3 separate regions of the Homo sapiens genome follow, and regions 1 and 2 are each reported to be linked to region 3. Evidence: microRNA targets listed by miRTarBase, many of them from high-throughput screens and not tested one by one. Region 3 holds a microRNA gene; each other region holds the end of a gene's coding sequence.

Evidence for each region. The annotated mature microRNA hsa-miR-139-5p reads UCUACAGUGCACGUGUCUCCAGU and lies in region 3 at 1,343-1,365, shown strand. An mRNA with a match to its seed (bases 2 to 7 or 8) in the 3' UTR can be bound and repressed. Matches are read on the target gene's strand: a 7mer-m8 pairs with bases 2 to 8, a 7mer-A1 pairs with bases 2 to 7 and ends in A, and an 8mer does both.
Region 1: the mRNA of DCAF4L1 is a reported target of hsa-miR-139-5p. Seed matches in the 3' UTR shown: 7mer-A1 at 1,401-1,407.
Region 2: the mRNA of ADAMTS17 is a reported target of hsa-miR-139-5p. Seed matches in the 3' UTR shown: 7mer-A1 at 1,786-1,792.

What each region holds. Positions count from the first base shown.
Region 1 is chr4:41,982,683-41,986,843 of GRCh38, forward strand. It overlaps DCAF4L1 (DDB1 and CUL4 associated factor 4 like 1), which reads left to right. Exons shown (of 1, transcript NM_001029955.4): 1 at 1-3,783. The coding sequence ends at 301. Among named protein-coding and RNA genes, the nearest start is that of DCAF4L1, 3.0 kb to the left of the region's middle. RefSeq lists enhancers at 1-4, 1-336.
Region 2 is chr15:99,970,997-99,975,157 of GRCh38, reverse strand. ADAMTS17 (ADAM metallopeptidase with thrombospondin type 1 motif 17) reads left to right here. Exons shown (of 22, transcript NM_139057.4): 22 at 596-3,721. The coding sequence ends at 756. Among named protein-coding and RNA genes, the nearest start is that of LYSMD4, 240 kb to the right of the region's middle.
Region 3 is chr11:72,612,467-72,616,466 of GRCh38, reverse strand. It overlaps MIR139 (microRNA 139), which reads left to right and starts at 1,337; the gene lies at 1,337-1,404. The region is part of intron 2 of PDE2A (phosphodiesterase 2A); the gene reads left to right. LOC105369377 (a long non-coding RNA gene) reads right to left here. Exons shown (of 4, transcript XR_001748292.2): 2 at 2,165-2,375; 3 at 1,730-1,838. RefSeq lists an enhancer at 2,330-2,429.

The DNA of each region.
Region 1 (4,161 bases), not on the chromosome of region 3:
GGATCTGAGGGCCACTAAATGTGTAAGGCAGTACGAAGGTCACGTGAATGAGTCCGCCTATCTGCCCCTGCATGTGCACGAGGAAGAGGGAATCGTGGTGGCAGTGGGCCAGGACTGCTACACGAGAATCTGGAGCCTCCATGATGCCCACCTGCTCAGAACCATCCCTTCCCCGTACTCTGCCTCCGAGGACGACATTCCCAGCGTGGCCTTCGCTTCTCGGCTCGGGGGCATCCGGGGAGCAGCACCAGGGCTGCTCATGGCTGTCCGGCAGGACCTTTATTGTTTCCCCTTCAGCTAATTCTGCAGGTGGCAGCGCGGCCGAATGTGGATTTGACTTAAGGAAGTTAAGAGTATCTTATTACCGTTTCTGTGAGAGCATTTTAAGAGACGTGTTGTATATAGATCGCATCCATCCGGCTGCCAGGGGTAAGGTGTTAAGAGTTTTATGTGGAGACGTTCTTGTAAAGTTATTTCAGTTAAACTGTGGACTTAACTTGAAAGTCCTTTTCATAAAAGGTACCTGTTTCCTCTTGTTGAATGCCTTAGAACAGTTAACCACCTCCCCAACCCTTTTTTTTTTTAAATAATTAAGACTTTTCTAAGGACTGAAGATTGGCAAAAACTAAAATAAATTAAAGCAGCTTCTTTCACTAGTAGCCCTTTAGAGAAGCATAATGATGGTACTGGTAAGACTGTTTGACTAATCATACAGGGTCCCAGGCATCTGCGCTTGAGGAAGCCAGTGGGAGTGGAGACAAGGGAGAGGTAATTTCTCAGAGTCTCTACAGAAATATTTAAGGCTGGAGTTTGGAATCATTAAATTTGGCCTTCTCAAACTCAATAGCAGATCTCTTAAGGTTCTCCTTTTATTGTTATCATCCATAGGCATTGGAAGGAAAGATGGATCTTTTTAAATACTAGAAGTTTTAAACAGTCCTTGATGTGCTTTTGTTGAGGTACCTTTCAGAATGTAAGGTACAGCAGCTCCGGTTTCTATTATGGTGACTTGAAGTTCAGATTCAAGGAATTGGCTTTGACTTTTTGTAATCTAGGAGCAGCAGTTTGTGAGAGATTTATTAAAAATGTTAAAGAGCCTGTTTTTCTACTAAGCAAGGAAGAAAAAAAACGTGTAATAAGGTTAGTTGCTACTTCTTAATAGCCAAAGCCTGGAAATGATCTGAATTTCGAAAATGCTAAAATTCGTGATATAATCATACAATCGGATACTGCATAATAATAGAAAATAAGGCACACTTGCTATGTGAAACAGTATGGACCAATCTCAACATGTTGACTGAAATTAGGTAGAAATGAGTACAAACTGTATGATTCAATTCTAAAGTTCAAAAGCAGTAAAAACTTGTCTATGGTGATTAAAGGTAGAGTAGTACGTACCTCTGTAGAAAGAAAGGATTTTTTTTTCTTTTTCTTTTTAGGATGTTTGAGAAGTGACATGGGGAAGCTTTAGGAATGCTGAGTTTTCTTTATCTTGACACTTGATACATACGTAATTCATATATCTATATGCTTCACGTTTTTATAGTTTACTGTATATATGTTATTCCTCAAAAAATAAAAATAAGCAATTAGGACACTATTGTAGTTAGGCAAGGGACAATGATGCCTTGGACCTGCATGTGTGAGAAGTAGAAATGATCAGAAATGATTGCATTGGAAGATCATTCGAAGGTAGTATTATTGATAAGGCTTGCTGATGAGAGTAAACTAGAAAGTGAAAGAAAAAAGGATGGCAGCTTTTTTTTTTTTTTTTTTGAGACGGAGTCTCCTTCTGTCGCCCAGGCTGGAGTGCAGTGGCGCGATCTCGGCTCACTGCAAGCTCTGAGGATGGCAGCTTTTTTGTTAACTTTAGAACTGGTAGATGATGGTGTCGTTTACTAACCTGGGGAGGATGAGGAGAAAAAACTTTAGGTGAAGGGAATGATGCTGAGTTTTAGACATCTACTAAACCTCCAATTGGAGATACAAAGTATTCTGCAGATCAGGGGTCATGTCATGGCTGGTAATACAAATTTGGTGACTTCAATACATAGAATTAAAATAGATGGGATAGATGTGCTTTATATGACATAGATGAGGTTAATGTAATTACATATTGATAGAAGATGAGTAGATCAATAGAGAAGATATGGGAGTATGGTTAGGCACAGATTTTTGGAATCCTTTCAGTCAGTTTTTTATACTAACTTGATATGTGACATGAGAAATTGTGTAAGCTTTACTTGCTGTTGTTTCTTCAGTGTAAAATGTCTTAGATAATAAAACTAAATGATAAAGTAGATACAGGGTTAAAGGATATGTATCTTGTCCCTTTTACATTGTAAGCATTCAAAATAAAACAAAACAATTAATGAAGAAAAGACATTGCAATCATTCAGTAAGAACTAGCTGCAGACATATATATGTATATATATATATGTCTGATACTGATATGTCATTTATTTGGCAATTGACAAAAAATGACTACATAACTTGATAAACTGTTTATCCTCATTTGCAAAGAAAACAAATGCAAAAAAAAAATCAGTAAGAAAAACACACCTAAAAGAAAGGGAGGCAATAGTCTTGAATAGGAGAAAAAGAGGAGATCCAAATGGCTAATATACATTTGAAAAGGCATCCAACTTCTTTTATTGTCAAGGAAATGCAAATTAAAACCACAATGCCACACCACTTTCACTATAATGGTTAAAATAAAATAGATCAGGTGGAGTGACGTTGGGAATTAAAAGAGAAGCAAATGTTGGTGCAGTTGTGAGCAAATAGAACTTTCATATACTGTTGAGTGTATACTGGTACAAGCACTTGGAAAAGTTAGTAATTGCTAAAGCTAGAAGTTTGCATACTCTATGACCCAGTCATTTCAGTCCTAGGAATATATTAATCAGAAATGCATACCTGTGTCCACCATAATTTGTTAATAGCTCCAACTGGAAACTACCCAAATGTTCATTAATAGTAGAGTGGATAAATTGTGGGATATTAACACAATGGAATCCTTTTTGCAGTGAGAATGAGCATAGCACTATGGACAAATCCTGCAAACATAATGTTGAAATAAAGATGCCAAACACAAAAGAGCACATATTGTACAACTAATGCACATAAAGTCCCTAAACAGGCAAAATGAATCTATGTTCTTAGAAGCAGGATTAATGGTATACTTGTAGGGCAGAAGAGTAGTGACCAGAAGAAGATTCTAGGAAGCTAGCAATGCTGGTGTCATGCCAGACCCCTAGTGACTCCAATAGTAATGGCACTGTGTCCGAGAGTCCAAAGAAGATGCGTAGACAGCGAACAAGACTTGGGTTTATTGGGGGAACTTATATATAGGGATGGTCCAGTGGTAGTAGGCTGGACAGAAGAACCACTACTGTTTGTAAAAAGCATGCAGTTTATATAGCATTTTCATTTAGCACACTCCACCTAGCAACCTCCATTTAACCCAAAGCAAAGGACCTTGATCCCCTATATTGCCTGTGTTGTAAGGGATGGGCTGGGGGTTCAGACGTCCTTCATAGATAAGGAGTGAAACTCAGGGTTAGTCGCTCCTGTTTCCTTAGTTTGGGATTCTGAGCACACATTCGTTTTAGATCACAGGGTCGTTCTCAGGATATGGTTGTTACTGCTGTCAGGTGCATCCTCTCTATAGCGGGGTACTGGCTACACAGTTTTTGTTCACTAGTGATAATTGTTAGAGCTATGCCCTTAATATATGTCTTGTGTGTATTATACTTCAATAAAAAGTTAAATTTTAAAAAACCTAGTAAGACTTTCTCTTGCTGCCCCCACCTGTGGCTTTGGGGAAGGAATTGACTCTTCACAAATGCTGCCCTCTCTAAAAATATTACACCTCCATGCTCTGTCTCAGCTTAATTCTTCTCAAGGATAAAGGTTATCAAACAGTCAGTCTCTTGCCTCCAGGAGTATTTAATAACTCAATTATTCCAGCTGTAATATGAATCTTGTTCACTACCCTCTAAGGAAAAGTGTGTGTATGTGTAATTTTTTCTCCACCATACCAGGTAAATTGCAGAGAAGGAGCTTTTATTGGAGAAGCTAAGAAGTGTTGAATAAGAGAGCTATGATCCAGGAATACAGTTATCATTGGAGAAATCATTCTCCTTTTCTTGGATGGAA
Region 2 (4,161 bases), not on the chromosome of region 3:
ATATTTTCCTACCTGAGGCTGGAAACTCACCAAAATGAAGGGGATTTCTAGTATCTTTGTTCCGGGGGAGGCCTTTGAGCTGGCAGAAGTATAGTTGTGTCTTTTCAAGCACCGGCCTGCTTGGGAACTTCAGGACCTCCCTTGAGCAGGGCCTTCTCTCTGTACAATCAAGACCCTGAAGGATATTTGGGCCACTTGTATGTACTTGGACCTCATGCTTTTTGGGGTCCTTTGATGTCCACTGTTCCATGTTGTCCTGTTTTATAAATGCCTACAGTAATGGTACCCTTGGCCACAAAATAGTAAGTGCCACTTAGCTCGGAAGCAAGGTGGCCTGTGCCCTCTTCCCTGAAGAGGCAGCCAGACCACCACACTCTGTCATGTGGTTGGGTTTGGATGCAAAGGTGCATCCCTGTGACAGAAAGTGGCACCCCCAGTGCCCTGGCAGGAGGCATGGCCTAATCAGTGCAAAGGGTTGACGTGTGCACGAGGGTGAGGGAGCCCAGACGGTCAGACCACAAGCCCTCCCTGTGCCTGCATCAGGACATGCCTAGGCCATCCCTGACCCTGGGTATTCTCTCTCCTATCCCCTTAGCTGCTCTGACCTACAAATGCACACGAGACCAGTGGACGGTATATTGCCGGGTCATCCGAGAAAAGAACCTCTGCCAGGACATGCGGTGGTACCAGCGCTGCTGCCAGACCTGCAGGGACTTCTATGCAAACAAGATGCGCCAGCCACCGCCGAACTCGTGACACGCAGTCCCAAGGGTCGCTCAAAGCTCAGACTCAGGTCTGAAACCCACCCACCCGCAAGCCTACCAGCCTTGTGGCCACGCCCCCACCCGGCTGCCACAAGAATCCAACTACATAGAACATGAGCGTGGACTTGGCGTTTGCCATTAGTGCTTCCGTACTTAATATATTGTTAACAGCCACTGGCTGGCTTTCTACAGTGAGGAGAAAGTAGGCATGAGTCACAAAGTAACTTCAATTTCTAGGATTTCAGGTACCTCGAAGGGAAGCACCTCTGGCAGACAACCGTCAAGAGAGAGACATCATTTAGTGTTCTTGTCTTGACTCGCTTTTGACATTTGAATTTCCAGTGCTTGGTATATCATGGAGGAAACATCCCCAAAACGAGACATGCTAGAAAAGGCTTTATTCTGAAAGCCGGCGACACCATGGAGGGAGGGGCAGGTGTTGGTGAGCCTCTGCCCGTGGCTTCTCTGGGGAGGGCCGGGCTGCTTAGCACACGTTTCTCTCCATCTACCTTCTTGACCACATGAGAACCAGGACGTTGCCTCCATGCCCGTCTCTGAGAACATAGTCTCTAAATCCTAGGTGTTGCCTTGGAAGTCTCGTGCGTGGAGTGTAAATCTATATATGCCAGCGAGGACAGCAGTGCCACGCAGTTCATACCACCCGCATGGGAAGAATGTTCCAAGAGAGTCTGGGTTTGGGGAAGCATCTAATTTTCAGAGCTCTGCTGTCCACCGTGTAGGGAAACAGAAGGGCCTCTCTTCAAGGTGCTGTGACATAAGAAACGGTAATTGCGGTGATGGGGTTGCTTCCTAAGGCAAAGGTAAGCTTGGGCCAGCTTCACTGGGGCGGATGGGCACCTGCCCCGCCTTCCGGGAACATCCACTCTGGCCTGCACTTCCTAAAGCTTTGTACCTTAGAGATGCTGTACCACATCCCAGTGGCTTTCTACCGACCGTGGCCATTTATCTGAAGGTAAGACGACATTTGGGACCTCTGAGGACACAAGCCCAGGCCTAGGATCTGTAGAGCAAGGCCTGACTGCTCTATCCTGGCACGGAGCAGCCTGATGTGCCAGGACCAGGGGAGGAACGCCATCTGGCTGGCACTGCTGCACACCCGCCGAGCCTTCCTGTAGCCCCAGACTTTGTGGTACCCATTATCATCACGCCTGTCATCATTGACCCATCTTCTTGGTGGGGCAAGGATGATGCATGATGAAGGAAGGTCCTTCCCCCCTGCAGCCCCCTTACGCCTGGCAGCAGACAAGCAGAGTGGCCTCTTTGAGAGCACAGAGGATGGTAGCACCCTACCTGCAAGGAGGCCGGGCAGGGACCCTAGATGCCAGGAGGCCTGTTTTGCTCACCAACTTGGTGGGCATTTCATGGGTGCTTATGTTCTAGGACTTTACCGTAAATAACACCTCCTCCCTGATTTCAGACGGAAGGTCTCACTTGGACTTCCATGGGATCATCTCCCTGTGCTTCTTGATTTATTGGTGCTGTGTTTCTGTGTTTTGTTTTGTTACATGTCACAACCGTAGAGTTAGCTTAAATCAGAAAGAAGCCTCTCTGCCTTCTCCACCCTGTCTTACGAGCTGTGTTTTTGTTTTTACTACCCTAGAGGCAGAGAAGCGGTAGGGATGTCAGGGAATTTACTCACTTCCACTTGAATCAACGAGAAGTGTTGAGAAACTTCCGTGGGTGCTCTGTGGAAAGAACCGAGGGTGTCAGGATGGAGCGGCCCACCCTCGCCCCGCGGCCTGCGCAGACTGCTGTCCTCCCCTTCAGGCCTGGCCACCAGCAGACTCCCATGAATTCCCATTTTCACAAAGCCCTCAAAATTTTGGGGGCGCTGAGGTTCAATTTTCTTCATCCCCAAATGAACTGTTAATTCACTGAAAGACATTTAGACTTTTGCAGCCAAGGAGCAGAGCCGGGCAAGCTCACTAAGGAAGCCTTAGCTTGGTCTCCTGCATGGGCCCCGGGGCCTCCAGATATGCCCACTGTCACCCTGGCAAGGGCCCCACACCCTCAGAATGAAAAGGATTGATTGGGTTATTGTCAGATACCCCCATTAGTTCCCCTAAAGTCTGCATCTGCAGAGCTCTTTTAGCTCATCTTTTTGTTGTCGGTGTTGTTTTTTGAGACAGAGTCTCCCTCTGTTGCCCAGGCTGGAGTGCAGTGGCGCGATCTCAGCTCATTGAAAGCTCCGCCTCCCGGGTTCAGGCCATTCTTCTGCCTCACCCTCCCCAGTAGCTGGGACTACAGGCGCCCACCACCACGCCCACCTACTTTTTTGTATTTTTACTAGAGACGGGGTTTCACCATGTTAGCCAGGATGGTCTCGATCTCCTGACCTCATGATCCACCCGCCTCAGCCTTCCAAAGTGCTGGGATTACAGGAGTGAGCCACCGCGCCCGGCCTTTTAGCTTATCTTGAAATCCACCAGCCTACCTTCTGTTCATGGCACGAGCAGTGATTTCAGTGAAACCATCATAAACATTCTTGTTCCACTAGATGCTGATCACAGCAGTGATGTTTCTGTGTTAATACCCTGTACTGTCCCTCGAGTACTGTACCTTTGTGCTTGCACACGTGTCACTAACGCACGTGTTACCAGAGTCTCACGACCCTACGGTGCTATTTTTATTGGTGCAAAATTAAACCCTCTCAGCTGACCGTTGCTGGATAGGATCAGAATGCAGGAAAAGAGCCTCTATGGCAATACGATTGTCCTTTTTTCGTTTCAGAGTCAAATGTATCTATTTTCCATTCGTTAACTTGCATTACATACTGTACCCATGGAATTTTTGTTTTACTTTTTGGGGCTGGTTTTGAAAGGAAAAAAAACGGAAGACAAACATTGGACGCCATTATACATGAAAATTATATAGAAAAATTAATCATTTCATTGGAAGCAAGTTGAATATGTGTAATAAAATGTTTTTCCATAACAGTTTAAAGCTGTCTGTGAAGTAAAAGACATAAGCCAGTCCCCAAGGGCTGTCTCCTTCCCCACTGTGGTGGCCACCTGGCTTGCCAGGGACTTGGCTGCAGGGAGCCTGCTGGCCACAGCTGGAGTTGGTGTCAGAGGTCACTGGGAAATGCAGTTCGGGGGGATGGCTGCCTCTCCCTGAGCGAGTGCTAACAAATCTTTCTTTCAGTCCTGGCCTCATCCCGTTGTGGTTGCAAAACCCTGGGTGGGGACCTGAGGGTCTGACAGTTGTGCTGTGAGCCTGCGCATCTGATGTAGGGCAGCCACCTCACTGGCAGAGTGGCCCATGCTCCAAGACCCATGCTGCAGAGTGCACGCCCTGGCCACGCTGGCTGGAGAGCCATGCTGAACTCTCCAGCCGCTACCCCCACCCCCACAACCCTGCCAACAGCCCTCACAGC
Region 3 (4,000 bases):
TGAGGGGCTGGGTAATGCTGGAGACCTGGAGAGGGGCAGGACACAATCTCTGCCCTCCAAAAGCTCCCAGTCTGTTGTGGGAGCCAGACGGGAAAGGGTGGCACTGCATTGATGCACACAGTGCATGCCATGGTGGGGGAAAGGGGGGCAGTGGGAGCCCCAGGTGGGAGGGTCAGACTTGCCTGGAGAGAGAACAACAACAGACTCTCCCTGGAGGGGATCCAGAGAAGGGAGATCACTCCATTCATTCATTCGTCATTCATCCATCCACCCATTCAATTATTCCTTTGGCCATCATTTCCTGAGGGATGTAAACTCTCTTCTGACACTGACCCAGCGGGACACTCAGCGTCCTCCTCCTCTCCTGCTTGAGCCACCATGCCTGCCTCTTGGAGGCTCCTGGACTTGCTTTGCTCAGCTCCCAACCCACCCTGAGGGGGTGAGGCTGAGGAGGGTGTACAGACATTCAGGGTCACCAAACTCAGAGCTGGAGGCCTGCCACCTCACCAGGGGCCTTTCTCAGGGCACAGGCTCCCTGGTGGCAGGGCCTTGGCCCTTGCTTGCACACCCTTGGGGACTAGGAGCCCCCTCATCCATCCTGCTCAGGCTCTCTTTTGTGGCGCGACTCTGATTCACAGTGTGCCCAAATCTGCCTCCTTGTGACTGCCGCGAGCTGCCTCGTGGGCCCCAGGCCAGAGGACAAGGATAGCTAGAATGCCAGGTGACCAGGATGACTGTGATGGCATGGAGAGGGGGATGCTGTGATGTGTTTGGGAGGAAGTTTGTGGTGTCCAGGAGAATGTGGGCAGCAGAAATGGGACCACTCTCGGTTCTTCCCTGTAGATGAAGCAGCTGAAGGTGGGAGGGGGTGGGAGGAGACCTGAGCTGGCTCTGCCCCGCTTGATCTGATGTCTGCCTTGCAGGGCCATCCTCCCCCTCCCCACACTCAGCTCCTGCCTCCCTCCCTCTACCCACTCTGACTGTTCCCTCCTTTCCTGACTCCAGACTCTGGGTGAGGGACTGAGGTGATTCCAGTGAGTCAGGCCCTCAGGGAACTGATCGTGCAGGCAACTCTTGCCTGCCTTCTCCTGCTCTTTCCCTCTTCCCATTCCTTCATCCACCCCCAAACCTAGCTCCTGATGGATCCAAGGGTGCGGGGGACAACCGGGAGGTCATTTTGGAGGAGGCAGGAGCTGGAATAGAAGCTGGGACTGGCTTGGGAAGGGCGAGAGGCCGGGGCGGAGCTGGTTGTGGGCGCTGGAAGGGAGGAGCCAACAGTGTGGGGTCAGGCTCCTGTGGATGGGGACACCCTTGGGAGGCACTGGGACTGGCTCAGGTGTATTCTACAGTGCACGTGTCTCCAGTGTGGCTCGGAGGCTGGAGACGCGGCCCTGTTGGAGTAACAACTGAAGCCGGAGTCTGCGAAGGGTGGGCAGGAGGGTGGAGGGATGGGGGCATGGAGCGGGAGGGGGTAAGTAGAGGAGGGAGGGGAGGAAGAGAAAGAGGGAGGAGGAAAGGTCTCTGGCAGGTCCCTCCTTTAAGACTGGGCTCCTGCGCTGCGAGTGGCCCCGTCCATACTGCCTTGTTATCCATATCTCCCCACCACTAGTCTCCCTCTGTCCTTCCACCCCCAGCCTCTCCCCTCCATTGGGACCTTCCCTGGGGCGTCCCCTCATTGGCTGTTCTCACCTGAGCAAGGCCCCTCCCCTCCAGTCCTTAGCCTCTTCACCTGTACAATGGGATGACCCAAACAGGCACCTCTTGGGCTTGTAGGAGGATCCAAGATAGTGTCAGTGGGTCTCGAGGTGTGGTCCCCCGACCAGCAGCATCAGTGTCATCTAGGAATGTTTGGAAACGCAAGTTCTTGGACCTCGTCCCAGACCTACTGTATCAGAAACCCTGGGGGTGGGGCCAGCAATCTGCACTTTAACAAGCACTCTGGGTGGTTCTGGTGCACATGAAAATTGGGGAACGGCTGGTGGAAACCTCTAGCCACAGGAGGTGCTTGGGAAAGGTACCTTCCCCTCCCCAAAGCCTGATGCCTCACTCAAGCATGACACTGACAGTTGGGCTAGTTCAGCTGCGTTCTGGGTCTCTGTCTTGCCTCCTCCTTCAGACTAAGCCTCCCAAGGGTTGCCAAGCCTCTTTCCTCTATTCTCCTCACCCTGATCCAGCTCAGCCTCATTGAGAGAAGTCTGGGGCTGCAAGATCTTCGCACTCACAGGCAGTTCCTCTTTGCACATCCAAGGCACCAGTGTCTTTGAGAGGCGTCTCCTTGGCCAGGTGGCAGGCGTGGGTGTGTGGGGAGGAAGGAGGAGGAACCGCCTTGTTCTGCTTTCTTGTCTCTGACTCTGCAGGCTGGGGGTGCTGTAAGGCTGCGAGGAGGCATAGAGTCAGCTTGGGTGCTGGGCTGAGGCCAGGGGCCGAGGCTCAGCTGAAGCGGGCTTCTCTGGTCTGAGCCTACAGGATGCCTCCTTTGGGGCAGTTCTGCCAGTCACCCTGACTGGGCGGCTGTGCTTGCTAGTGCCAGACCCATGCTAGGCACAGAGGTCGATACGTTCTCCTGTGCTCTTGAAGGGCCCTGTCCTCTGGGAAGATAAGAGGCTGTGTATATTGCCCACCGGAACAGGAGGCAGGAAGCAAAAGAGGCGTAGATGACACTTGCCTGGCACCCCCTGTTTCCCCTCTAGCTGCCTTCCTGGGTTTCCCATTCTGTGGGCGCTTCTCTTGAGTTAGGTGCTTTCTCCCAGTGTTCTCAAGGTGACTATTTGGAGGTTTGTGGGAGGAGTGGGCTGGAGACACAGGAGTAGGTGGGGGCAGGAAGTATGCAGGAGAGAGATGGAGAGTGGGAGGAGAAGCTATGAGAGGAAGAGAGGACGCGGAGGTGGGAAAAGACGTCAAGACTCCTGGAGAGGAACAGGAGTGCAGCCTGGGACAGAGGTGGACGTCGGCCGGGGGAGGCAGGGAGGAAGGCAGGGAGGTCCACCCGAAAGGAAGGGAAGGGATGATGGACAGAGAATGAGAGGGCTCCGAGGTCCTGGGGGATCTAGAAGGACCCTTCCCTTTACAGAAGGGGACACCAAGGCCCAGAGAGAGAGGAGGGCCTCACAGAGGACCTAACACAAGCAGAGTTGCATGAATCAGTGTGAACGGACAGTCCCAAGAGCACAGCCGGACCTTGGGAGGTACTTGACTCTTGAGTTTGATGTTATTGCCTTCCTGTAGGCCAGTGTGAGGGGCACTGTGAGGCTTCCTTCCAGAGAAGGAGGCATGGAGCCAGTGCCAGGCAGTGGGGTGAGCCATAGGAGGACCTGTGGAGATGGGGAAAGGCATAGAGACTCATGAAGATGAAACAGGAAAGATCTTATGGCAGCGACCCCAACCCTCAGGAAGGGCGTTGGTCTTGTGCTTGTGGCTCCAAAGGGGATAAGACCAAGGTCTCTGGTTTCATAGAATCTTAGGCTTTAAGAACGAGTTAGAAGTAATTTAGTCCAGACCCTCTCCTCTCCCCAGATAAGTGCAGAAATGCAGATCTAGCCCACGGCTGAGCCCCAACCCTGGCTTCAGAGGAGGCCTGACTCAGAACAGGCTCCCCTTTCTTGGTACCTGGGGTGAATGAAAGCTAAGTCCGTGGTAATGGTGCTGTCTGTGGTGCTGACTGGCCTTACCTTGGACTACAGAGCTGCAGGTGGAGCTGGAGAGAGCAGAAAGGCTCCATCTATCCATCTACCCACCCACCCAGCCACCCATCTACCTATCCACCCACCATCCACCCACCCATCCATCCACCATCCCTCCCCCAACCCATCCTGCACCCATTCATCTATCCACCTACCCACTCATCCATCCAGCCTCATTGAATTAAACCATAGAACTATATGCTGCAGAGCTAGAAAGATCCATTTTTTAGTAATGACAAAACTGAGGCTCAGAAGAGGAAAGGTGTTGCGTAAGGCCACACAGAACTTCTGTAGTCAGTCTGGTACAGGATTGGAAATTG